7 linked regions of the Homo sapiens genome follow. The protein of the gene in region 1 interacts with the protein of each later gene in a biochemical or structural test. Each region holds a gene or a part of one and is shown in the gene's direction. Other genes may lie near its edges. The genes, in order: SLCO1C1, RIMS2, STXBP4, SIPA1L3, PDZD9, RGS12 and CARD14.

Region 1 (3,500 bases):
ATTAGGCCAATTAGTAACCCTACAATGACCTCTAGGTGTTTAAGTGAAAGGAAGAGTTGCACATCTCTCACTTTAAAAGGAAAGCTAGAAAAGATTAGGCTTAATGAGGAAGGCATGTTGAATGCCAAGACAGGCAAAAATCTAGGCCTCTTGCACCAAACAGTTACCCAAGTTGTGAATGTAAATTCTGGCAGGAATTTATAAAAGTGATACTCCAGTAAACACATGAAAGATAAGAAAGTGAAATAGCCTTATTGAGATAAAGTTTTAGTAGTCTGGAGAGAAGATTAAACCAGCCACAACATTTCCTTAAGCCAAAACCTAATTCAGAACAAGGCCTAACCCTCATTAATTCTATAAAGGCTGAAAGAGATGAGGAAGCTGCAGAAGAAAAGTTTGAAGCTGGCGCAAACAGGTTCATGAGGTTTTAGGAAAGAAGCTGTCTCCATAACACAAAAGTGCAAGGTGAAGCAGCCAGTGCCGGTGGAGAAGCTGCAGAAAGTTATCCAGAATATTTAACTAGGATTATTGATGAAAGTGGCTATGCTAAACAACAGATTTTCATCGTAGATGAAATAGTCTTCTATTGGAAGAAGATGCCATCTAGGACCTTCACAGCCATAGAGGAGAAGTCAATCCTGACTTTAAAGCTTCAAAGGACAGGGTGACTCTCTTGTTAGGGGCTAAGGCCACTGGTGACTTTAAGTTGAAGCCAATGCTCATTTAACATTCTGAAATTCCTACACATAGGCTCTTCCTGTGCTCTCTAACTAGAACAATAGAGATATGCTGAATGACAGCACATCTTTTTGCAGCATGGTTTACTAACTATTTGAAGCCCACTGTTAGGATCTGCTGCTCAGGAAAAAAAATATATATATATTCCTTTCAAAATATTACTGCTCATTGGCAATGCACCTAGTCACCCAAGAACTCTGATAGAGATGTACAAAGAGATAAATGTTTTCATGCCTGCTAACATACCGTCCATTTTATACCCCATGGATCAAGGAGTAATTTTGACTTTCAAGTCTTATTATTTAAGAAACGTATTTCACAAAGCTATAGCTATGATCAGTAGTGATTTCTAATGATTTCTAGTGATTTCTAATCTAGACAAAGTAAATTTAAAACCTTCTGGAAAGGATTCCCCATTTTAGATGCCATTAAGAGCATTTGCAATTCATAGGAGGAGGTCAAAATATCCACATTAGCAAGAGTGTGAAAGAAATTGATTTCAGCCCTCCTGGATGACTTTGAGGTGTTGAACACTTTAGTGGAGAAAGTAAGTGCATATGTGGTAGAAACAGCAAGACAACTATAATTAGAAATGAAGCTTGAAGATGCGACTGAATTGCTGCAATCTCATGATAAAGCTTGAACAGGCTGGGCGCGGTGGCTCATGCCTGTAATCCCAGCACTTTGGGAGGCCAAGGCGGGCAGATCACCTGAGGTCAGGAGTTCGAGACTGGCCTGAGCAGCATGGAGAAACCCTGTCTCTACTAAAAATACAAAATTAGCCGGGCGTGGTGGCACATGCCTGTAATCCCAGCTACTAGGGAGGCTAAGGCAGGAGAATCGCTTGAACCCGGGAGGCGGAGGTTGTGGTGGGCCGAGATCGCGCCATTGCACTCCAGCCTGGGCAACAAGAGTGAAACTCCATCTCAAAAAAAAAAAAAAAAAAAAAAGCTTAAACAGATGAAGGGTTGCTTCTTGTGGATGAACAAAGTGAATGGCTTCTTGAGATGGAACCTACTCCTGATGAAGATGCTGTGAACATTACTGAAATGACAACAAAAGATTTAGTAAATTACATAAACTTAGTTGATAAAGCAGTGTCAGGGCTTGAGAAGATTGACTCCAATTTTGAAAGAAGTTTTACTGTGGGTAAAAATGCTGTCAAATAGCATTGCATACTACAGAGAAAACTTTCATGAAGGAAAGAGCTGATCTATGTGGCAAGCTTCATCATTTTCTTATGTTCATACATTGCCACAGTCATTTCAACCTCCAACAACCACTGCCCTGATCAGTCAGCAGCCATCAACATTGAGATGGGATCCTGTACCAGCAAAAAGATCACTATTCACTGAAGGCTCAGATGATTATTAGCATTTTTTAAGCAATAACTTTTTTTTTAAATGAAGGTATGTACATTTTCAGACATAATGCTGTTGCATACTTAATAGACTACAGTATAGTTAAACATAACTTTTGTATGCCCTGGGAAACAAAAAAATTGATGTGATTCTGTATTGTGAAATTCACTTCATTGTGGTGGTCTGGAGCTGAACCTGCAAAATCTCCAAGGTATGCCTGTGGTAAGATCCAGATAAAAAAAAAAATAGCATAGATGAATTATTAGGTATTTTATGATGTTATAGAGTTTTGCAAGAATTTATTTTTAAGTATATTATTTTAACATATTAGCTTTGCTGTTTGTATTACTTAGCCATCCCCTCTGTCTTTCAGATCACATAACCATTACCCCAAAAGATCCCCAGTGGGTAGGAGCCTGGTGGCTTGGCTATCTAATAGCAGGAATCATAAGTCTTCTTGCAGCTGTGCCTTTCTGGTATTTACCAAAGAGTTTACCAAGATCCCAAAGTAGAGAGGATTCTAATTCTTCCTCTGAGAAATCCAAGTTTATTATAGATGATCACACAGACTACCAAACACCCCAGGGAGAAAATGCAAAAATAATGGAAATGGCAAGAGGTAAGTCAAATTCTTGATTTTGAAGTATTTTCATTTTTCTGTTGGGGCTTAAGGAGATTTATAAATTACATCCCTCTCTTCCCTTCGTGTATTAAAAAGTTGAGAAACCATATCAGAAGCAAAAATGGAAATTGATGTCAGCTTTATTACTGAACAACTGATTGCAGTACACGACCAAAGAGCAAAGGCTTGACAGCCATTCCTGCTGATGTCTCCACCCTCTCACACCTCCTCAGTTTAGATCCTACCATTGTCTCTACCCAGGATTGCTGCTTCCTGTAATTCTGTGTATACAGGAAATAAAAGGCTTAATCTTCAAGGTTGGCAGCCTTTCAACAGATAAGATCTATTCATTTGAGAGATGTGTATCAATGCATGTCTCTCACCAATGATCAAAGGGGTGAGTGTTCTGTAGGCAAAAACCCAGTGTTCTAATGAACCCCCTTCATGGAAATGAGCAGCCCCTCATGATATTGGTCCCCCTCTTCTTGTCCCTTCAAGCAATATTTACATTTATAGAAATTCTTCACATGTCTAATTGGTAGGCTACATAATAGGAAAAAGGGAGAACACCAATGCTCATTTCTAACACTAAAATTCATATATTAAATGGAGATAACTCTCATATTTCTTTCTCTTTGACCACAAGCTAAGTTTGAGGAATAGAGACAAGAAAAGTGAAGGTCTTTATGTCCTGCCTGTGGCTCCCAGCTAGATGATGAGGGAGTATTCTCATCCTTTTCGTCTTTTGCCCACATCAGTTAGAGGAATCTGTTCTTGTC
Region 2 (3,500 bases), on another chromosome or scaffold:
ATTTTGCATAGTTAGAATAACATTTATAATGGAGCATCAGATGTGTTATACAAGCTAGAATATTTAGAAATAGATTGAATAGTCCACATGACAAACAATTGTAAGCAAGGAATAGAAATGATACTTACTACAGTAGATTTAGGATGTTTAAAATGTGGTTTTCTATAAACTGGTTCTAATTAAGGACAGAATACTCTGGCAAAAGAGAAAGCAATTCTAACAACACAGGTGGCAATAAAGAGAAGTGAATCGATATTAGGTAAATATAAAGTGAATATAAATATATACTGATATTATAACAGAAATAAGGATAATAGAATGCGTAGGAGTAAAGATTAAGGCACTATATGATGCCACAAATACATTTTATACTAAAGAAAGGCATAATTTTGGATTCTGCCTCTTAATTTCTCAGGGTCTTTGAAGGATTAAGTGAAATGTAAAATCCTAGACGAATCGTTCCTTTTCCTTTGTATTATAACAGATGAATTAAATACTGCTAAATGCCTTATGGTTCTGTAGAGAAATATACAAATTATCAATGATATTGCTTTATCTATTAAATATTTTCCACCTGATGATAATAAATGCTAAGGCTTGTTTATAAAGGCCAATAGCAAAGATATACAGTAGAAACACATTACTTGAATTTACACTGATTTTATTTAGTTCCTGAAAGGAATATACTATCTATGAAATATAGAAGTTTAAAATTTAAAGGACAGTATATATGAAGTAATTCATAATATAGTTGGTAAAAATTGTTTGATAGAATATTTATTATTTTGAAATAATTGATTGCAGGTTCTTCATTGTTTGATACATGTATTGTTAGAATGAAATCTTGCCTTGTTTCTCGCATAGTGTTAACATACTGTAAGGTACTATACCTTAAAGGGTATTCTTGAAAACCTAAGTCTTTGTAACAGTGACAGTAGTCATCCCAATTTCCGATTATAACCACTGTTCCATTTTTATAGTGGTTATAATCTTAAATCCAGTACAAATCGACATCTACAGTATGATTCACATATTTCTGGCAAATTTGATAATCTCTAGAACAATGTGATTGCTGGATTTAACATTGAATTCAATTTTCCTAAGGTATGATTTTTAAAAAGTACTTAGATGGCTTGCTAGTGACTAATTATTAATAGCCTTTCTCTTGGAACTGAATTCCATAATAGGAAGTAAATATTCTTATTTATCTGTAAGATAAAATATAATCCCCTGTTATAAAGACTCATTGTATTCACTTTATACTCTACTTACTTTCAAAAATTCATGTTAATTCCTTAAGATAGGAATGAAATATTCCTTTTTTTAACTTCTATCCTAAAATACTCAGTTTAACATTAAATGTATTATGGGAAATCTTTAATGCATTAAGCTTTCATGTAGGCTTATTAACTTGATGAAGTTGTGGTATCAATATTGTAAAATCATAGTACCTAAGAAATGGAAGATGGTTTTAGAATCATTCACCCTCTTAAGAACAAGGAAGGTGTCTTAATCATTTCTGCATTCCTAATTTATAAGATAGTGTGTGGCATTTATTTCTTAACCTAATATATGTTTGTTAAAGTAATATATAAGTTAACATGTAAAATCTATGCCTCTCAATTTAAAGCACAAACTCCTAAGGATTTAATGGTTATATAGTTCGAAATAACTGGCTAATTACAAAAGTATGACTAAGAACTGTAGATTCCTTAAATCTAGTGTTCTCTTCATGATAGACTACTATCATGCTAGAGTTTTTTTAGTCAAATGTATAAAAGTAATGACAAAAGTGAAATGAATGATGCACAGTGCACACACACATATACACAGAAACATAGGGTGTTGGGTACTATAAATTTTTTTGAATGTTTTGTTTTGATTGTAAATTTTAAACTGTAGGAATCTATGGTTTTATGTAACAATTGTAATATAAAAGATTTGTAATTAAGTCCTAAGTGTTTCATATATAAATGTAAATGCTAAAAAATATCACATCCACTTTCTTAATTATAAAACATTTAAGGGATAGACTAATTTTTTCACTTTCTACAGTACTTATTCCTTTATAGTTCCAGGTTAGAGTTTATCCTGGCTTTGTACTTACATGAGATTTGAAAGGTAGAGGATATACAGAAGCCATTATTGTCAAGCATTAGTTGTTGGCTAGCAGATGGGCAGATATAAAAGTCTTAGTGGCTCCTGGGCAAACTCCTGTTAATTGGCCACCCTGATGCTGTAGGTGGTACAGGTAATTGCTGGCAGATTTCCATAGACTCCTGACATTCACAGCAGCTTTCTAGTGTCCATTTTGAGAACCCTTGTCTTTGCATCTTCAGGCTAAGATCATCAGCATTAACTTTCTTGGCCTTTATTCCTGTCGCCCATTCAACTGTTATGTAGCTTCTGGTTCCTGAATTAAAACCCTTCCTACCTGGAAAACCTAGACTAACTTCTGTTTTCGTTAGTGAACCTAATTGGTAGATTGGCAGACTGTGTTCCAAATATGAGGGGAAAAGGGATTCTGTGACCCGGGGGAGATATTAGAGAAGAGTGCTGATTTTGCCAGGTTGGGTCATTCTACTGTATCCTTTATCTGCTCTTGCTTTTGGGCTAAGAAACCATTGACTAAGAAATTCACAACTGAACTGTTGAATCTTAGTCATCTTTAACTTCAGCTGACTTCACTCTTTCATTGTCTCCTGTTCATGTCCTGGCAAAATCCCCATAATAGTTTTCTAAACCTTTTCTGTTATCTTCAGGATTCTAATCCTATTGCTTTTCATGATTAATAGTTGATATTATCTAAGTTTATTCCAGAGAAAAGGTTAGTGTGAATATTTTGTTAACAGGGTATCATGTCTTATTGCAAGGTTCACTAGGTTTTACCAGTGTTAGAAGGGTAAGTTGAGAAGGTAATAAGCAGTTTCTTCCTCTGAGACTATAAGGAAATATGAGGGGTCAGATGTGGAGACTTAGTAGAATAATATCACCAAGCTGTTCTTAATCTAAATGAAGATGGAATAAAAATAGCAGTTTTTTCTGATTTCTAGGATTTTTGTAATGAATAAATCATTATTATTTGTCTATTTTTATTGCTTATCTCAAGTTAGATCAATAAAAAAGGGTTGGAGACATGATGATAAAATGAAAATTTAGGTGAACCAATACTAGGAATGATCTAGAAGATGATGAATGAAAAATGATTTTTAAGAGCCAGCACTTAATTTTAGTCAGAAAGTATTCAACTCTTGAGCCAAATCAGTTTGGCTTCATTACATTTTCAGGTAACTTTCATATCAGCATGTTAGGTATAGAGAAGATGGAGGAAATATTTTTCTAAGCTGCTGAATAATAGTTGGTGGGTAGTGGAAGTGTACGTAGCAAACCAAGCAAGGAAATTAGAATAAATGCTAGTTTATAGCAGTGGAATATCATATTATCTAATTTTCAAGCATAAGCATATTCCAGATATAGTGTTGCAGGCACTTAATAACCAC
Region 3 (3,500 bases), on another chromosome or scaffold:
CAGTGGCACAATCTCGGCTCACTGCAACCTCCACCTCCCAGGTTCAAGCGATTCTCCCACCTCTCAGCTTCCCTAGTAGCTGGGATTACAGGTGCGTGCCAACACACCTAACTAATTTTTGTATTTTTAGTAGAGACAGAGTTTCACCATGTTGGCCAGGCTAGTCTCGAACTCCCAACCTCAGGCGATCCATCCGCCTCAGCCTCCCAAAGTGCTGGGGGTACAGGCATGAGCCACCACGCCTGACCTAAGAATTTGCTTTTAAGACAAGCATCAATTTGTGCTTGTTTGTTACGATGAAAACTATTTGGAGTTAGAGTAATAAGTTGATAGCGGTGGTGCTGAATGACTCTTTATCTTCTGTCAGTGATAGCAGATTAAGAAATTATTCTTATGATATCTACTTTTTCTTGTTAGAATTTTACTGAAGTATTAAAAGGCAAAATTTTCTCATTGACTATATTCTCTACTTAGCACTAGAGGGCAGCACAGAGCTATTAATGTTCTTCCTACCTGGTCATATCTGACCAAGGAAAACAGGCAAGATAGAAAAAGGTGTAGGAGAAGAGGACCAGGGGTGATGGCTCATGCCTCTAATTCCAGCACTTTTGGAGGCCCAGGCAGGAGGATCCCTTGGGCCCAGGAGTTCCAGGTTGCAGTGAGCTATGATTGCATCACTACACTCCAGCCTGGGCAACAGAGCATTTCTAAAAAATAAAAAAATTTATAGAAGTAATTTTCTAGTGCTTACATTATTTTTAAATATTTTCTCAAGATGGAGAGCTCTATGCATATGCATATTCTTCAAATACAAAATTGATATAACTTTATTTTACAACAATGTATTAATACATTTACTATATTCTAAATACTGTTTTAACATGTTAATAAATTTCTAGTCTGCACAAAATTTCTACATAGTAGAATCTGTGGAATAGGAAACACAAACTCATAAGGTTATCTTAATGAAGTTGCTGAACTGAGTAACTGTTAATATTTTTTAAATGCATATGAATGCTTTAACTTTCTGTAATTTTGTTTTAACATTATAATGTTTCATAATTAACAGTATAGGCTATCTCAAGCTTATAGCTAGATTATATTTCATTTATATTTTCAAATCTTCCAAACTGTAAGGGAGTTATTGGAACGCAGAAGAAATTTTCTTTAATTATTCATGGTTTGCCACCACCCACCCCAAAAGTTTTCCTCCTGGAAAATATGAGAATAAAATACTGGTTTAGTAGAAGCAAAATAGTATGTTTCTTTGAAAAACATATCCAGAGTTCAAATATGGGATATTATGAATACATCTTTTCAGTTCAAGCAGAACCAAGATTCCCTCAGCTCTAAGAGCTAGAGGCACCCTATAAATTGAGAACTACTGTATTAATTGCTAAAGTTAAGGAAATAAGAGAGCTCCAAGGCCCTTTCACTGTGTCAGCTAGTCCCATATCTATCTGGGGTCAATCCTAGACCCTTTTTCTGGCCAAGACACTCCTTTAAGCTTCATACCCATATTCAGTTCCCTGATCAACATTTTTACTTGGACCTCTTAAAGGTATCTCAAACTCAGCATTTCTGAAGCAGAACTCATGACATTTACATCACACCATATTCTGCTCAACTCTTCCCAAACAGAGTCTCTTCCAGTTTACCTAGTCTTGGTGAATGACAGCTTCTAGCTACACAAAGTCAGAAAATTTAACAGCTTCCTATTTCAACTCCCATAACACTGTTCAATTCATTAACACATACCATTGACTTTTTTACTCTCGAAATATCTCTTGAACCCATCAGTCTTCTTGATCTTTATTCTTATCACTGGAGCTTAAACTGTCATCAGTTTTGAATCAGCCCTTTCAGTAGCATCGTTTGTTCTTATGCACCATACCTATTTCCCTCCCAACCTACATATCTTACTAATATTTGGTTGCCTGCAAGGTTCCATATAGTGTGGCTTCTGCCCTGTCCTTCTCTGCCTCTCCATCACTATGCTTCCAGAGTAGCATTTTCTCAGTTCCTGGAAGGGGCGAATTTCTCTTTTTTTTTTTTCTTTTCCATCTCATATGCTGTTCCCTTAGGAAACAGCACTCCATTTCCTTTCCCCCATTATTTCCAGTTATCAATTCAAAGACTGCTGCCTAAGGGTTGTGTTGCCTGCTTTCCCCCAGTCTAGGCTAGGTTTTATTTTTTTCTACATATGCTCCTAAATCCCATTCCTTTCCTTTGTGTCACCTACCTCAGTTTGCAATGATATATTTATATTTATGATTGTTTAATCATCTCTGCCTGAACCACAAGACAGTATGTTTCTTAAGGGCAAGGATGCTATCTGATTTTATTCACAGTAATATTGTTAGTCCCCACTGTGGTGCCTGACACATACATACTTGCTCAATTTAAATTTATGAATGAACGGTCCCGTAGTCATTTTCTCACATTTCTGAGGATTACTGATCTGCTTATTTACCCTTCCACTGGCACCATTTGGGCTCCACACCAAGGTACTTCCTCCTTGGGCCTTTGTGTCAGATTTCCGACAACACTTTAAAGTTCTCAAATGTTCATTTTTATTTCTTTCTTTTGTTGCTGGTAACATAGGGAAAGCAGACAGAAATCAAAATCCTCTCTTCAAATCTGATAGTATATTTCATATTTTCTTCAGTTGGTTCTAAGATATACATTAAAACATATACATATAAGCTATGCATGCACACACACATATATATAACATGCATATATCGGTATGTAATATACTTATGAGTGTGTGTATGTACGTATTTTTTCCTCTTCTATCTCTGAAATTATAGGTCTCACAGTCAGTGTCATCATGTAATTTGTGGCATTGAAGTAGGACATATTTAACTTTCAGAGGAAATCTGTTTTCATGCGGAGCATAGCACTGGAACCAGGGCTAAGGCTTTTAGATAAATATCAGGATCAGGCCTCTGGATGGCAAACTATGAAGAAACCAGTCCCACTGGTGGGAGCTGAAGAAGTAGCAGCCAAGATGGTTCGCTTTGCAGTGTCACTCTCTTTATTCCTTTGCCATTATTATTTTTGTCATAGCTACCTTAATTTCCTCAGACTGTTTCTTGGCCCCCTTTAACCTATTGTGGACTTACTGTGTACCTAGCACTGTACCAGGGAAATAACCATGAAAAGGACAGAGTTCTAGTTATGCCTAATGAAAGAATTGGTGATTCTGGCCCACTAAAAGAATCATTGCCCCTAGACTGGGAGTTGCTGATTTAGTATATTCTAATGTGAGGGCAGGGAAAAGCAGATATGTAAACATAAGGACCATACAGAGTAAGTGCAATCCTTTAGGTAAGTAAAAGTGCTTTTTGAGCAAAAAGACACAACGATTAAGTAAATCCTGGGCAACTAGAGAAAACTTCCAGCAGAGATAGTGTTTGAATTGGGCTGTGAAGTTTAAGTCAGAGTTTATTGCAGAGAAGTGGCAGGGTGGATGGTGGCATTCTAGATGGGAATTC
Region 4 (3,500 bases), on another chromosome or scaffold:
TTTTTTTTTTTAATTAAAAAAAATCCTGGCTGGGCACAGCGGCTCACGCCTGTGATCACAGCACTTTGGGAGGCTGAGGCGGGCAGATCACGAGGTCAGGAGATCGAGACCATCCTGGCTAACAAGGTGAAACCCCGTCTCTACTAAAAATACAAAAATTAGCCAGGTGTGGTGACAGGCGCCTGTAGTCCCAGTTACTCGGGAGGCTGAGGCAGGAGAATCACGTGAACCTAGGAGGCAGGAGGAGGCGGAGTTTACAGTGAGCCTAGATTGCACCACTGCACTCCAGCCTGGGCGGCAGAGTGAGAGGCCGTCTCAAAAAAAAAAAAAAAAAAAAAATCCTGATCCTGCCTCTTCAGATAGTTTTAACTGTGATGGAGAAAATTTAACAGGGTAAGTGGAGAGCAAATGGCTGATGGGGCAAGATGGCGGTGGTTACCTTAGCTTTGATGGTCAGGGAAGGCCTCCCAGGCCTCTTTGAGGAGTCATGTGAACTGATACCTTAATGAGCAGTGGCACTGGCTATGCCGAAAGTTGAAGAAAGAACATTCCAGGTAGAGGGAACAGCAAGTGTTAAGGCCCGGAGGTGGGAGTGAGTTTGCTACAAAGAGTATCAGTTTGACTGGAGAAGAGTTAATTCCTAGTTTTCAAGTTGATACTACTTTAATTTTTTTTTTTTTTGTGGCAGGGTCTGCTCTGTCGCCCAGGCTGGAGTGCAGTGGCATGATCTCAGCTCATTGCAACCTCTGCTTCCTGGGCTCAAGTGATCCTCCTGCCTCAGCCTCCCAAGGAGCTGGGATTACAGGAATGTGCCACCACACCTGGCTAATTTTTTTTTGGTACTTTTAATAGAGGAGACAGGTTACACCATGTTGGCCAGGGTGGTCTCAAACGCCTGACCTCAGGTGATCTGCCTGCTTCAGCCTCCCAAAGTGCTGGGATTACAGGTGTGAGCCACTGCAGCCGGCCACATTTTTTCTATTTTTTGTAGAGACCTGTTTTGCCCAGGCTGATCTTGAACTTCTGGGCTCAGGTGATCCTCCACCCTCAGTCTTCCAAAGTGCTAAGATTACAGGCACGAGCCACCATACCTGGCCTACTTTTTTATAAAATAATAATAATGATAGCAGCTTACCTGGTGCTTACTCTGTGCTAGATGCTTTTCTAAGCATTTCACACATTCCTCAGTTAATCCTGACAGTAGTCCAGTGAAGTAATTAACTTGATCAAACTCATTTTACAGATGAGGAAACTGATTCCACCCTCCATGCTCTTCACCTGCATTCTAAACTCTTCCAGGGCCCTCCTTACCAGGCAGAGGCAAATTGAGGAAGTGGACACAGCATTTCCTTTCCTTGTTGTTTGACATGCAAAGCACTTTAGACTATATTTAGTACCTAATTGATGTGGCAGCAGGGGCCGCCTGGGATGTTGTGGCATCATTTTTGCTCTCAATGAGACACGATAGGGATGGTTTGGTGGTGGTTTCAAAACTAAAGACCCTCCAGCAGAGCCTGTCAAGTAAAACAAGGTTGACTGCTTGGTTGCCATACCAGGCACAGGTTAGCATGAAACAAAGTGTAGTGTCCAAGGAGAGGGAGCAGGGTGTCTCCTTTGGGTGAGCTTTGCAAGGGGACTTGGGACTTGGCTGGAAAAGGTGTTTTTTTTTGTTTGTTTGTTTTTGTTTTTTTTGAGTCAGAGGCTCGCTCTGTTGCCCACGCTGGAGTGCAGTGGTGTGATCTGGGCTCACTGCAACCTCCGCTTCCTGGGTTCAAGCGATTCTCCTGCCTCAGCCTCCTGAGTACCTGGAGTTACAGGCGCCCACCGCCACTCCCAGCTAATTTTTGTATTTTTAGTAGAGATGGGGTTTCACCATCTTGGCCAGGCTGGTCTCCAACTCCTCACCTCAAGTGATCCGACGGCCTCAGCCTCCCAAAGTGTTGAGATTACAGATGTGAGCCATGCACCCAGCTGGAAATGGTGTTTTAAGCACACTAGCCATGTGGGCTGTTAAAGTATCATACTATAGCCCATCAACTAAGACAATGATTCTTGGACCTGTAAGGGCCCCAGGTCCCTGCTCCGGCATCATGACCTGTGTGCACTTTGATTTGCTGTAGCGTGGGCGTATTTTGAATGAAGGGTAGCCCTGGTTAGATGTGAGGACAGTAGTGGGTGCTTTTAAGACTAAAAATATTGGGTGGGCATGGTGGCTCAGGCTTGTAATCCCAGCACTTTGGGAGGCCGAGGTGGGAGGATTACTTCAGACCAGAAGTTCAAGACCAGTCTGGGCAACATAGACCCCAACTCTGCAAAAAAAAAAAAAGTTTTTGTTTTTGAGACAGTTCTCACTCTGTTGCCCAGGCTGGAGTATAGTGGTATGATCACAGCTCACTGCAACCTCTGCCTCCTGGGTTCAAATGACTGTCCTGCCTTAGCCTCCACAGTAGCTGGGATTACAGGCGCCCACCACCACACCCGGCTAATTTTTATATTTTTAGTAGAGATGGGGTTTTACCATGTTGGCCAGGCTGGTCTCAAACTCCTGACCTCAGGTGGTCTTCCCGCCTCAGCCTCCCAAAGTGCTGGGATTACAGACGTGAGCCACCGCATCTGACCTCATCTCTGCAAAAAATTTTTAAATTAGCCAGGCTTGGTGATGTGCACCTATAATCCCAGCTACTCAGGAGGCTGAGGTGAGAGGATCACTTGAGCCCAGGCACTACCACACCTTGAGCCCAGGAGATCAAGGATACAGTGAGCTATGATCACACCACTCTGTGTCTAAAAAAAAAAAAAAAAAAAAAAGACTGAAAGTATGGAGAGCATCTTTCATCTGTCCATCTGTGAAACATTTCTTCACCTACCCTGTGTGTCAGGGTCCATGCTTGACACTGACAGTATAAAGTTGAATAAGACACTGGTTCTCAAAAGCCCACAACAGTGCTGTCTGTTAGAAATATAACGTGGGGCCGAGCGCGGTGACTCATGCCTGTAATCCCAGCACTTTGGGAGGCTGACGCGGGTGGATCACTTGAGTTCAGGAGTTCGAGACCAGCCTAGCCAACATGGTGAAATCCCATCTCTACTTAAAATACAAAAATTAGCTGAGTCTGGTGGCATGTGCCTGTAATCCCAACTACTCGGGAGACGGAGGCAGAGAATCACTTGAACCCTGGAGGTGACAGTTGCAGTGAGCCAAGATTGCACCACTGCACTCCAGCCTGGGCAACAGAGTGAGACTCCTTCTCAAAAAAAAAAAAATGTGGGTCACTGATGAGGCTCATATAGGTAATTAAAAATTTTCTAGTAGCCATATTTTGAAAAGTAAAAGGAAGCAGGAAAGTAATTTTAATGATATATTTTATTTCATCTAAAACATCATTTCAACATGTAATCAATATAGAAATTATTAGTGAGCTATTTTACTTCCTTTTTTCCACATTAAGCGTTTGACATACAATATGTATTTTACACTTTCAGCGTATCTCAGTTGGTAC
Region 5 (4,045 bases), on another chromosome or scaffold:
CCAGGGCCTACCTCATTAGGTTTTCTCTTTCTTCTAGAATTTACTAACTCATTTATTCATTTTTATTTTTTGAGACAGGATCTTGCTCCATCACCCAGGCTGGAAGGTGGTGACTCAATCATAGCTCACTGCAGCCTTGAATCCTGGGCTCAAGTGATCCTCCCATCTCAGCCTCCTGAGTAGCTAGGACTACAGATGTGCACCACCATGCCCAGCTAATTTTTAAATTTTTTTTATAGAGAAAGGGTCTCACTATGTTGCCCAGGCTGATCTCAAACTCCTGGGCTCAAGCAGTCCTCCTGCCTCAGTCTCCTGAGTACCTAGGATTACAGGTGTTAGACACCACACCTGGCCTAGAATTTATTTTTAATAATTTATATTTTCCTAAAATTGTCCACTTCATCTGTTTTTTAAGTACAGGTTTCAAGAGGATAGAGCCTGTGTTTCTGTGTTTGTCTTGCTTACTGTTGTGTCCCCAGTATCAGTAAATGACAGAACAGCTCCCTGTAAATACTTGTTGTATGAGTGAATGTGTGTGGGAGGAAGAATTATCTTGGAAAAAAGAAGGAAGCATTAATAGTGCCTCTCCTAATAGTGACTCATTTTTTTTTAGGCCACCCTGGGGCCTTTTCTTATTCAAAACATTCATGAAAAAAAGTGCAGTTCCAAAGCATTGGAGCTACTGATGTAACAATTTTTTTAAAATACCATTATTAGAAGTGCAGCGGGGGATTCTCTGATCTTCTAGGTATTCTGTGATCTCCTGTGATCTTCTGGCTGTGATCTTCCTCTGCAGACCACCTCACATCTTTGAGACACCCTCCTCTGTGCCTTCTCCCCCTCCCTATTTCTTAGGTTCACCAAGAATGAATGAAGAAGCCAAGCGCGGTGGCTCATGCCTGTAATCCCAGCACTTTGGGAGGCTGAGGCGGGCAGATCGCTTGAGCCCATAGTGCAACAGTTGTGTTGAGCCTGAGCAACATAGTGAGACCCCCACCCCCTGCCCGTCTCTTAAAAAAAGAAAAAGAAAAGAAGGAATGAAGAAACCACCGTGGGTCAGGCACGGTGCTAACCTCTGCAGAAGTTTCCATACAGTACAATGGTGTGCAATGCCCACGCCACGTTTTGCAGGGTCCACGGGAAGCCTTGCGGCGACCTCACTGCCGCCCAATTTCTGGGCAGTGGCGGCGCAGCGCCCCCTGGCGGCCATCCCGAGGGCAGTGCCCGCGGGCAAGGTTCGAAACTGTTGGCATTGGGACTGACTCCAGCCTCTGCTCCGGGAGGCCCTCCCGGGCTGCCTGACCTCCCGGGACCATGCAGAAGGCCTCCCACAAAAACAAAAAAGGTAACTGGGGAGAAGGAAGCGGGTGAAGAAGCCCTGGGGACCAAGCCTTCGTCAATGTTCCTCCTCTGTAAAATGGCAACGGTGCACTCTTGGCCTGGGAGATAACCTCTCTCCATCGTTGTTGTTATCATCATCATCATTATCATCATCATCATCATCATCATCATCATCATCATCATCATCATCATCATTTGAGAAGGAGTCTTGCTTTGTCCCCCAGGCTGGAGTGCAGTGGCGCGATCTCAGCTCACTGCAACCTCTGCCTCCCAGGCTCAAGTGATTCCTCTGCCTTAGCCTCCCGAGTAGCTGGGATTACAGGTGCCTGCCACCATGCCCAGCTAATTTTTTATTTTTAGTAGAGATGGGATTTCACCATGTTGGCCAGGCTGGTCTCAAACTCCTGACCTCAAGTGATCCGCCCGCCTTGGCCATCGTTATTTTTATCAAGGTATAATTTCCATGCAGTAAGATCCCCCCTTTTAAAAGTACAGCTACCGTTTTGACAAGCTATACCCACGTTGAACCACCCCCTCCATCAAGATAGGGAACAGTTCCACCACTCCCTAAAATTACTTTGCAATGCCCAGTTGCAGCCAAACCCCACCCCACTGCAGCTCCTCACACCCCCATCTGTTTTTTACAGCGTTTTTTTTTTTTTGCCTTTTCCATGGAGAACATCATAAAAATGAAATCACATAGTAAGGAGCCTTTAAAAAATTATACCAATGTAAATAGGGACTTTGGCCCTTTCATTTTTATTAAAAGGGCACATAAATCTTAAAATAGCATATGGGTCACTGTATTTTATTTTTAGAGACAGAGTCTTGTTCTGTCGCTCAGGCTGGAGTGCAGTGGTATGCTCCTGGCTCACTGCAGCCTCCAATTCTTGGGCTCAAGCAATCCTCCTGCATCAGCCTCCCATAGCTGGGACTGTAGGCATGCACCACCACATTCAGCTAATTTTTTTTTTTTTTTTGAGACAGAGTCTTGCTCTGTGACCCAGGCTAGAGTGCAGCGGCATGATCTTGGCTTACTGCAACCCCCGCCTTCCAGGCGGGTTCAAGCGATTCTTGCCCCTCAGCCTCCAGAGTAGCTTGGATTACAGGCGTGAACCACCACGCCTGGCTGATTTTTGTGTTTTCAGTAGCAACGGTGTTTCACCATGCTGGCCAGGCTGGTCTCGAACTCCTGACCCCAAGTGATCCGCCCACCCTCGGCCTCCCAAAGTGCTGGGATTACAGGTGTGAGCCACCATGCCCAGCCTAAATAGAAGAGATGAGGTGTCACTATGTTGCCCAGGCTCTAATCACTTTATACTTCTGCTAGCCCCCAGGTGGGCTTACTGAAGGATGCAGACTCCTGCACTGAGCAATTCTTGTTCTTTATGGCTTTTTTCCGCACAGCATCAGGATTTGATAAGACTTGAGGTTGGCAAAGAGGCTGAACTAGGCAGGCAGGTGCCAGACAGCCTTAGGCTTTTTCACTGCAGGGCTGTTGTCATTTGGACTGCTTGTCCTTGGGAAGGTTGACATTGCTGTCTGACTAGCCTTGTAGCAAAACCTGTAAGTCTTTCATATTTTAGTCTGGTGCTTGGGGTCTGGCTCTCCGAGGACCATAGTGCTGCCTCCTCCACCTGGTTGTCCCCAAACACAGCAGCTCACTCTTTTCTGAGCTCACCCTTTTCCAGGGAGGAAGCATTGAAGATCTCACTTTCAACAGCAGTAGGATCATCTTTGTCAGTACCTTCGGGTTCCAGGGTCCCTGCCACTGGGCCCTAGCGAGCACTTTCCTCAGGTTTCATGTCTAATAGTTCATCCTGAGCATGCACTGTGTGAAGAGCCTTTGCCTAAAACACATAAAATACCTTTTCCATCTTCAGTGTTTTCCTTGTCGTGGTTTTCATCCTCTAATGAAATTAATTGACTCAGCTCCTGCACTGTTACATCTGTGCTTTCCTGCTGGGTGAGCTTCTTTTCTTCTTTCTCAACTAGTTTTTTCAGAGGGTTTTGTAAGTGCTTTAAAGTAGTGACTTCATATGGCTGATAACCTGTGAAGCTCTCATGGATGGCTGCCATAGTGTGAGAAGTCTTCTCTCCAAAATGAAGCAGAGTGGTCTGGTATGTTGCTAGCATTTGAGACAGGAGATTGCATGTATTTACTTGCTCCAAGAAAATCTACATCCAACTTCACTTTGTCAAGGTTTTTTTCTCTCTCTTTTTTTTTTTTTTTTTTTTTTTTTGAGATGGAGTCTTGCTCTGTCACCCAGGCTTGTAGCTGGGATTACAGGCATGCACCAACATGCCCAGATAATTTTTTTTTGTTTTTGAGACAGAGTCTCGCCCTGTCACCCAGGCTGGAGTACAATGGCGCCATCTCAGCTCACTGCAACCTCTGCCTCCTGGGTTCAAGCGATTCTCGTGCCTCAGCCTCCCAAGTAGCTGGGATTACAGGCCCGCGCCACCATGCCCAGCTAATTTTTTGTAACTTAGAGACAGGTTTCGCCATGTTGGCCAGGCTGGTCTCGAACTCCTGATCTCGTGATCTACCCGCCTTGGCCTCCTAAAGTGCTGGGATTACAGGCGTGAGCTACCGTGCCTTGCACAAAGTTTTTTTTGTTTTTTTTTCAAGATGTACTTGTGTTTCTTGCCTTCCCGAACTTCTGCATTTGCTTATAGAGGTCTGGATCAAACTCCTGAGACA
Region 6 (3,500 bases), on another chromosome or scaffold:
GAAAGAAATTACTGCAAACTGGGGGGCTTAAGACAACACACATTCATTCTCCTGCGTTTTCGGGGGCCTCGTGTCTGCAGTCAGTGTGACCTGGCTGATGGCAGGTGTGGCAGAGCTGGTTCCTCTGGTGACTTTAAGTCTGCTTCCTTCACCTTTCCGGCTTCTGGAGGTGACCGCCTGCCCGTCTGCCTGGGCTCGAGACCCATCCTTGAATCCCTGCAGTCTCCGCATCCTTCCTCATGTGGCCGTCCCCTCTGGCTCTGACCCCAGGCTCACACAGGCGCACCCCACACTCTCCCCATCTCTAGAGCCTTCACGTGGTCACGTGGATGGGAGGAGCCATCCAAAAGCTTGGGAGTGAGGATGTGGGTGTATCAGGGGCCATCAGCCAGCCTGTCACACCTCTTAAGAAGATCGATCCCCAGACGTGTTTCTTGGCCAACTTTTACATTTATTTATTTATTTTTTAATGATGATTTTTAATAATTTTTAATTATTAAAAAATTATAAAATAATTTTAATTATTTTATTTTTTAAATTCATTTTTTAATGATTTTAAATAGTTAAATGCCCAGTCCTAATATTTAAATTATTAATACAGTACTACTTAGATATTGAGTAATGTAATTTATATTCATTTTTTACTCTTTTCCATCAAAACATAATTTTACTAAGTACGCATGTTCTGTGTCCGTGTTTTGTCATCACTGAAGCCACTTTTGGAGTCACCTAGTAATAGCCTTTCCACTCTATCTAGTTCTGTAGCTTTTATGTGTGTAAATTACTTCAAATCTGTTTATGATCCTATTGCTGGAAACTTTATCCCAAGACACAAAAATCTTTTCTATTAGAAGTTATTAACTTTAAAACAATTATTTATTTTATTTTATTTTATTTTTTGAGACAGAGTCTCGCTTTGTCACCCAGGCTGGAGTGCAGTGGCACGATCTCGGCTCACTGCAAGCTCCACCTCCCGAGTTCATGCCATTCTCCTGCCTCAGCCTCCCGAGTAGCTGGGACTACGGGCGTCCGCCACCATGCCCAGCTAATTTTTTTTGTATTTTTGGTAGAGACAAGGTTTCACCGTGTTAGCCAGGATGGTCTTGATCTCCTGACCTCGTGGTCCACCTGCCTCGGCCTCCCAAAGCGCTGGGATTATAGGCGTGAGCCACCGCACCTGGCCTAAAACAATTATTTCTTTAAAAAAACATACCCTCTATTCTATTTTGTGTCTTCACAACACAATCACTTACTGTATTGCTTTTTAAAGTGATCTTTAAAGAGTCTTGCAGAAGAGACTACACAGCAGGCCCGAGACCATCCTGAGAGGCCTGTGTGCAAGGCTGGCCCCCCGCTGGTGTCAGGACGGTGCCCACCACCCTCAATGAAGAGGGGCTCCCTGTGCTTAGCTGCTTGTGTGGGGAACAAGGTTTGTGCTGAGAACCTTCCTTTCTTCTGGGAGTCCAGAGTCTGGGCACGAAGCAGGCAGAGGGTGCCCATGTGCCCAGCCCCCAGTAAAAACCCTGGCACCGAGTCTCTAGTGGGCTTCCCTGGTGACGACACTGCACATGCGTTGTCACGGCTCACTGTGTAGGGAGTTAAGTGCGTCCTGCGTGACCCCGCTGGGAGAGGATTCTGGAAGCTCAAGCCTGGTTTCTTTGGGACATCGCCCCATGGACCTCTGCCCTTGCTGATTTTGTGTGGAATCCTTTCGCTGTAATGAATCTCAGCTGTGAGAGCACCTTTGTGCCAAGTCCTGGGAATCCTAGGGAATCACTGGCCTGGGGGTGATCCGCGGACCACTGACAAGTTTGTTCTCAATGACAACCAATACTTTTATACCCCCTGGAAGAATTGAGTTAATATGACATTTCTGCTTTTTTAGGTGGTGGTTTTTATCTAGCCTGTTGAGTGGCCTCTGCAGTATTGATCGAGGTTGTTTCAGGCTAATACGTTTTCCCCCACACAGTATATTCAAAATAAATTAATGTGGGAGGGTCATGGAATATTAGGTGACCCCTCTCCTGAGGGAAAACTCTATGTCAGGGGATTTATGATCAACTAAGGGGTTAGACTCAGTGTTCTGCAGGTGCCTTTGAACCTGAAGCCTGTAGCAGGCCTTGCTTCTCACGCTTGGACTCTGCCATCCTGTGAAACGTGGGTTTGGGTGTGTTTCTTCTGTGTGGAGCCCGAGAGTCTGCCTTTCAGACGGGCTGCCAGTCCACGGACCACACTTTGAGTAGCAAGGGGCTCTTTCCATCCAAACAGGGTGTGGAAGCAGTGCTGGGAAGCAGTCCTGCATCCTCACACCCGTGGCAGGTGGGCCTGGCAGGAACTTGTGTGGTAACAAGGTAGCAGTTGTGGGAGACATTTTCTACTCCGAAAGGAAGTTTCTTAGCCTGACTTGAAGATTTATTATCTATAGACACTTAGAGGCTCTTTCTGTGGTGGTTTTTATTATGAATTATCTTTTTGTGTTTAGCTAATACCAGTGAGTGGTGGAGAAAGATGGGCTCTTTAATAATGAGCTGTTCGTTTTTCTTTCTTAGGGCACTGTTTGAAGAAGCAAACATGGTAGCATCAAGCATTCCTTGAAATATGGCTCCAAGGGAACAATGAGACGTGCTCTTGGTCTTGGAAGCTCATCAGAATGTTTAGAGCTGGGGAGGCCTCCAAACGCCCATTGCCTGGGCCGTCGCCCCCAAGGGTGCGGAGTGTGGAGGTTGCCCGGGGGAGGGCCGGCTACGGATTCACGCTTTCGGGACAGGCACCCTGTGTGCTCAGCTGCGTCATGAGAGGGAGCCCTGCGGATTTCGTGGGCCTCCGAGCTGGAGACCAGATACTTGCTGTCAATGAAATCAACGTGAAAAAAGCATCTCATGAAGATGTAGTGAAATTAATTGGGAAGTGCTCTGGTGTCCTTCACATGGTGATTGCTGAAGGCGTCGGCCGCTTCGAATCCTGTTCCAGTGATGAAGAAGGGGGACTCTATGAAGGAAAAGGCTGGCTGAAGCCCAAGCTGGATTCTAAAGCACTAGGTATAAACAGAGCAGAGCGAGTCGTGGAGGAAATGCAGTCTGGTGGAATTTTCAATATGATTTTTGAAAACCCGAGCCTTTGTGCGAGCAATTCAGAGCCCTTGAAATTGAAACAAAGATCCCTTTCAGAGTCGGCCGCAACTCGATTTGATGTTGGACATGAAAGTATAAATAATCCAAATCCCAACATGCTTTCTAAGGAGGAAATATCAAAAGTTATTCATGATGATTCGGTTTTCAGCATTGGACTAGAAAGTCATGACGATTTTGCATTGGATGCAAGTATTTTAAACGTGGCGATGATCGTGGGCTACTTAGGCTCCATTGAGCTTCCTTCCACGAGCTCCAACCTGGAGTCCGACAGCTTGCAAGCCATCCGCGGCTGCATGCGGCGCCTGCGGGCAGAGCAGAAAATCCACTCGCTGGTGACCATGAAGATCATGCACGACTGTGTGCAGCTGA
Region 7 (3,500 bases), on another chromosome or scaffold:
TGCAATCGCCGCCACAGTTAACTTTAGGACATTCCATCATCTGTAAAGGAAACATCCCCTACCTTTAGCTACCATCCTGACATCCTGATAGACAGGGGGCCTGAAGACCCCTCGGTGATGCAGGGCAGGGCTGGAGTGGGGGCCCTGGGCTGACTTTATTGCTCGCTATTGCTGCCTTGAAATTCTGAATACGTTTTTAAAACAAACGCACCATCCTTTCATTTTGCCCTGAGCTCCACAGACGATATAGCTGGTCCTGAAGTGGGGCAGAGGATCATTCTGACTTGGAGTCAGACTCTAGCGACGCAGGCTTCTACTGGGTGGAGGCCCAGGAGCTCAGGAGCCTTCTGTGGGAGTGTGCCCATTGGCAGCGCATCCCTGGAGATGGACGGACAATTTCCACATCGCCTTTGCCCCTGTGCACGCTCCCTCTGGCTGCCGTCATAAATTACCACAAACTGGGTGGCTTAAAACAACAGAAATGTATTTGCTCATGGTTCTGGAGGCCAGAAGTCCACACTCCAGGGGTGAGCAGGGCCGCACCCCCATGAAGGCTCCAGGGAGGGTCTGCTTCATGCCTTCTCTTGAGTTTCTAGTGTTGCCACCGACCCTTGGCGTGTCACTCCAGTCTCGGCCTCTGCCAACATGGGGTGATCATGGGGTGTCTAGGCCTAGGGCCCTTCTCCTCCTCTTCTTCTTCTTCTTTCTTTTTTTTTTAAGACAGGGTCTTGCTCTGTCGTCCAGGCTGGAGTGGAGTGGCACTACCTCAGCTCTGCAACCTACACCTCCCAGGCTCAAGCGATCCTCCCACCTCAGCCTCCTAAGTAGCTGCGACTACAGGTGTGCACCACAACACCTGGCTAATTAAAAAAAAAATTTTTTTAGGCCAGGTGCAGTGGTTCATGCCTGTAATCCCAGCACTTTGGGAGGCCGAGGCAGGCGGATCACTTGAGGTCAGGAGATCGAGACCAGCCTGGCCAACATGGTGAAACCTTGTCTCTACTAAAAATAAAGAATTAGCTGGGCATGGTGGCATGCACCTGTGATCCCAGATACTCAGAAGGCTGAGGCAGGAGAATTGCTTGAACCCGGGAGACAAAGGTTGCAGTGAGCCAAGATTGTGCCATTGCACTGCAGCCTGGGAGACGAGCAAGACTCTGTCTCAAAAAAAAAAAATTTTTTTTTAGCAGATTTTAGCAGAGACAAGGTCTCACTGTGTTGCCCAGGCTGGTCTCAAACTCCTGAGCTCAAGCAATCTGCCCGCCTTGGCCTTTCAAAGTGTGGGATTACAGGCATGAGCCACCACACCCAGCCCTTCTCCTCTTGTTATAAGGGCACCCATCCCTGGACTAGGGCCCACCCTAATGACCTCAACTTGATTACGTTGGCAGAGACTTATTCCCAAATGAGGTCCTACTTACAGGTACTGGGGGTCAAGACTTCAGCATTCTTTTGCGGGGGGCCACAATCAGTGACACCCTGACTCGCAAGCCTCAATCACCTGTTCCAGTGAGAAACAGGACTGAGATCAGAAGGAATGAGGCAGAGCTGCCCTCGATTGGTTCTCCTCTCCTCCTCACCTGCCCACCCCGGCCTCTGCGCCCGTCACTGTCCTCTCCAGCTGTTCTTCCTTCCGGGCAAGGAGACTCAGCAGAAGGGTATGAGTGGCCTGGCCCTGTGGGGAGCCGCAGACAGGCCTGTGGGTGCTTTGGATAACTACTGCGCCTGTCAACTCTCCTTGGTAGTCTAGGGTTCAAAGCCCAGGTCCATTCTAGAAGTCTGCTTCCAAGTGCTAAGGAAGCTTCAATAGTTACTGGGAAAACCACAGGGGTCAAAGGTCCGTCGAGTTATTTCCCGGATCCGAGTCTGACGTCTTTTCCCCGCCGCTTGCGGTGGTTGTGACCGAACCTTGAGTTTTGGAACAGGTCACATGGCTTTGAAATCACGGTCAATTCACCTGGTGCTGCTTTGACTTCAGGCTCTTCCTTCTGCCCAGCTCCGTCCCACCCAGCAGCCCGCAGAGAAAGGAGGCAGCTGGCACCACACTGGGCTTTGGAGACACTGCGGGGACTGTGGACCCCACCCTGCTGCACGGAGCTCCTGCAAAAGCAAACCTGAGAACCTTGGTGAGTACTTCCGGAGACCCGGCTCCTGGGACGGCTTCTGGCGCTGCTCCTGCACACACGACTCTCCAACGATCATTTTCCATGTTTTATTTTTATCTTTTAATTTTTGAGATGGAGTCTCACTCTGTCACCCAGGCTGGAGTGCAATGATGCAATCTCAGCTTACTGCAACCTCTGCCTCCCAGGTTCAAGTGATTGTCCTGCCTCAGCTTCTCAAGTAGCTGGGACTACAGGCACCCGTCACCATGACTGGCTAATTTTTGTATTTTCAATAGAGACGGGTTTCCACCATGTTGGTCAGGCTAGTCTCAAACTCCTGACCTCAGGTGATCTGCCCGCCTTGGCCTCCCAAAGTGCTGGGATTACAGGCATGAGCCACTGGCCCCGGCCCATTTTCCATTTTTCAGATGACAGGTGTTGATTTGCTCTGATTTTCAAGTATTTTTAGCATACAGATCCCTGCAAGAGGCATCTGTCTCCAGTGGTCCAGCCTCTCCTTCCAAATGAAAAGAATCAAGTCACAGGAATTCATGGGTCTGTAAGGAATCGCTCCCATCTGTGCCCAGGAGATTAACAAAGGCGGTGGCTGCAGCTCTGTGAGCAGTGGAGAAAAATTAGGCACAACCTGATATCCTCCCACAGGAGCGTAAGTCCACTGTGGTTATTCATATCATTGAATCCAGTGCACAGTTTAAAGGACCATGCATGTATCAAGCTGCATGTATCAGTATGAGAAACCTCAGAAGCCGTACAGCCTTGCACAGAACGATAGTTTCTGTGAAGTTCCAGCTAACACTGAAGGCACTGTTGATGTAAAGCTGCTGTCTGCACGAAGTATCATGCAAAGATGCTATGTACTGTTTATACACACTTCCATTTGTAGGAAATGATTTTTAAAATATCATTTTTAGGCTGGACTGTAATCCCAGCACTTTCAGAGGCTGAGGTAGACAGATCACCTGAGCCCAGAAGTTCGAGACCAGCCTGAGCAACATACGGAGATTCCATCTCTACAAAAATTAAAAAAGAAGCCAGGCATGGTGGCGCATGCCTGCGGTCTCAGCTACTTGAGAGGCTGAGGTGGGAGGATTGCTTGGGTCTGGGAGCTCAAGGCTGCAGTGAGCCACGATCACGCTACTGCGTTCCAGCCTGGGCAACAGAGTGAGACCCTACCTCAAAAAAAATCATTTTTAAATGATTTTAGAATGTCTGGCCAGAGAGGGAGGGAAGAGGGACTGAAGAGAACAAAAAGGCGCCATCTGCCTCGCATTTCCTTAAAAAGAAACCTGAAGTGCAGAATGTCAAGATGGTTGAATCCGCATGGTAGATATGTGGATATTTGTTATTTGCAGGATTTTTTAATATGCTGAAAAC

What was found.
Region 2: the proteins of SLCO1C1 (region 1) and RIMS2 interact in a test that uses a peptide from one of them, tested with the Homo sapiens proteins (one large-scale study listed by IntAct).
Region 3: the proteins of SLCO1C1 (region 1) and STXBP4 interact in a test that uses a peptide from one of them, tested with the Homo sapiens proteins (one large-scale study listed by IntAct).
Region 4: the proteins of SLCO1C1 (region 1) and SIPA1L3 interact in a test that uses a peptide from one of them, tested with the Homo sapiens proteins (one large-scale study listed by IntAct).
Region 5: the proteins of SLCO1C1 (region 1) and PDZD9 interact in a test that uses a peptide from one of them, tested with the Homo sapiens proteins (one large-scale study listed by IntAct).
Region 6: the proteins of SLCO1C1 (region 1) and RGS12 interact in a test that uses a peptide from one of them, tested with the Homo sapiens proteins (one large-scale study listed by IntAct).
Region 7: the proteins of SLCO1C1 (region 1) and CARD14 interact in a test that uses a peptide from one of them, tested with the Homo sapiens proteins (one large-scale study listed by IntAct).

The regions. Positions count from the first base shown.
Region 1 is NC_000012.12:20,719,332-20,722,831, forward strand, and holds part of SLCO1C1 (solute carrier organic anion transporter family member 1C1), read left to right. Parts: intron 1-2,472; coding exon 2,473-2,718; intron 2,719-3,500. UniProt on the Homo sapiens protein: Mediates the Na(+)-independent high affinity transport of organic anions such as the thyroid hormones L-thyroxine (T4), L-thyroxine sulfate (T4S), and 3,3',5'-triiodo-L-thyronine (reverse T3, rT3) at the plasma membrane.
Region 2 is NC_000008.11:103,881,610-103,885,109, forward strand, and holds part of RIMS2 (regulating synaptic membrane exocytosis protein 2), read left to right. Parts: intron 1-3,500. UniProt on the Homo sapiens protein: Rab effector involved in exocytosis. May act as scaffold protein. Plays a role in dendrite formation by melanocytes.
Region 3 is NC_000017.11:54,992,765-54,996,264, forward strand, and holds part of STXBP4 (syntaxin-binding protein 4), read left to right. Parts: intron 1-3,500. UniProt on the Homo sapiens protein: Plays a role in the translocation of transport vesicles from the cytoplasm to the plasma membrane. Inhibits the translocation of SLC2A4 from intracellular vesicles to the plasma membrane by STX4A binding and preventing the interaction between STX4A and VAMP2.
Region 4 is NC_000019.10:37,913,708-37,917,207, forward strand, and holds part of SIPA1L3 (signal-induced proliferation-associated 1-like protein 3), read left to right. Parts: intron 1-3,500. UniProt on the Homo sapiens protein: Plays a critical role in epithelial cell morphogenesis, polarity, adhesion and cytoskeletal organization in the lens.
Region 5 is NC_000016.10:21,998,317-22,002,361, reverse strand, and holds the start of PDZD9 (PDZ domain-containing protein 9), read left to right. Parts: upstream 1-1,245; 5' UTR 1,246-1,314; coding exon 1,315-1,345; intron 1,346-4,045.
Region 6 is NC_000004.12:3,313,521-3,317,020, forward strand, and holds part of RGS12 (regulator of G-protein signaling 12), read left to right. Parts: intron 1-1,290; exon of another isoform or gene 1,291-1,429; intron 1,430-2,549; 5' UTR 2,550-2,650; coding exon 2,651-3,500. UniProt on the Homo sapiens protein: Regulates G protein-coupled receptor signaling cascades. Inhibits signal transduction by increasing the GTPase activity of G protein alpha subunits, thereby driving them into their inactive GDP-bound form.
Region 7 is NC_000017.11:80,176,530-80,180,029, forward strand, and holds part of CARD14 (caspase recruitment domain-containing protein 14), read left to right. Parts: intron 1-1,978; 5' UTR 1,979-2,126; intron 2,127-2,565; exon of another isoform or gene 2,566-2,574; 5' UTR 2,575-2,772; intron 2,773-3,500. UniProt on the Homo sapiens protein: Acts as a scaffolding protein that can activate the inflammatory transcription factor NF-kappa-B and p38/JNK MAP kinase signaling pathways.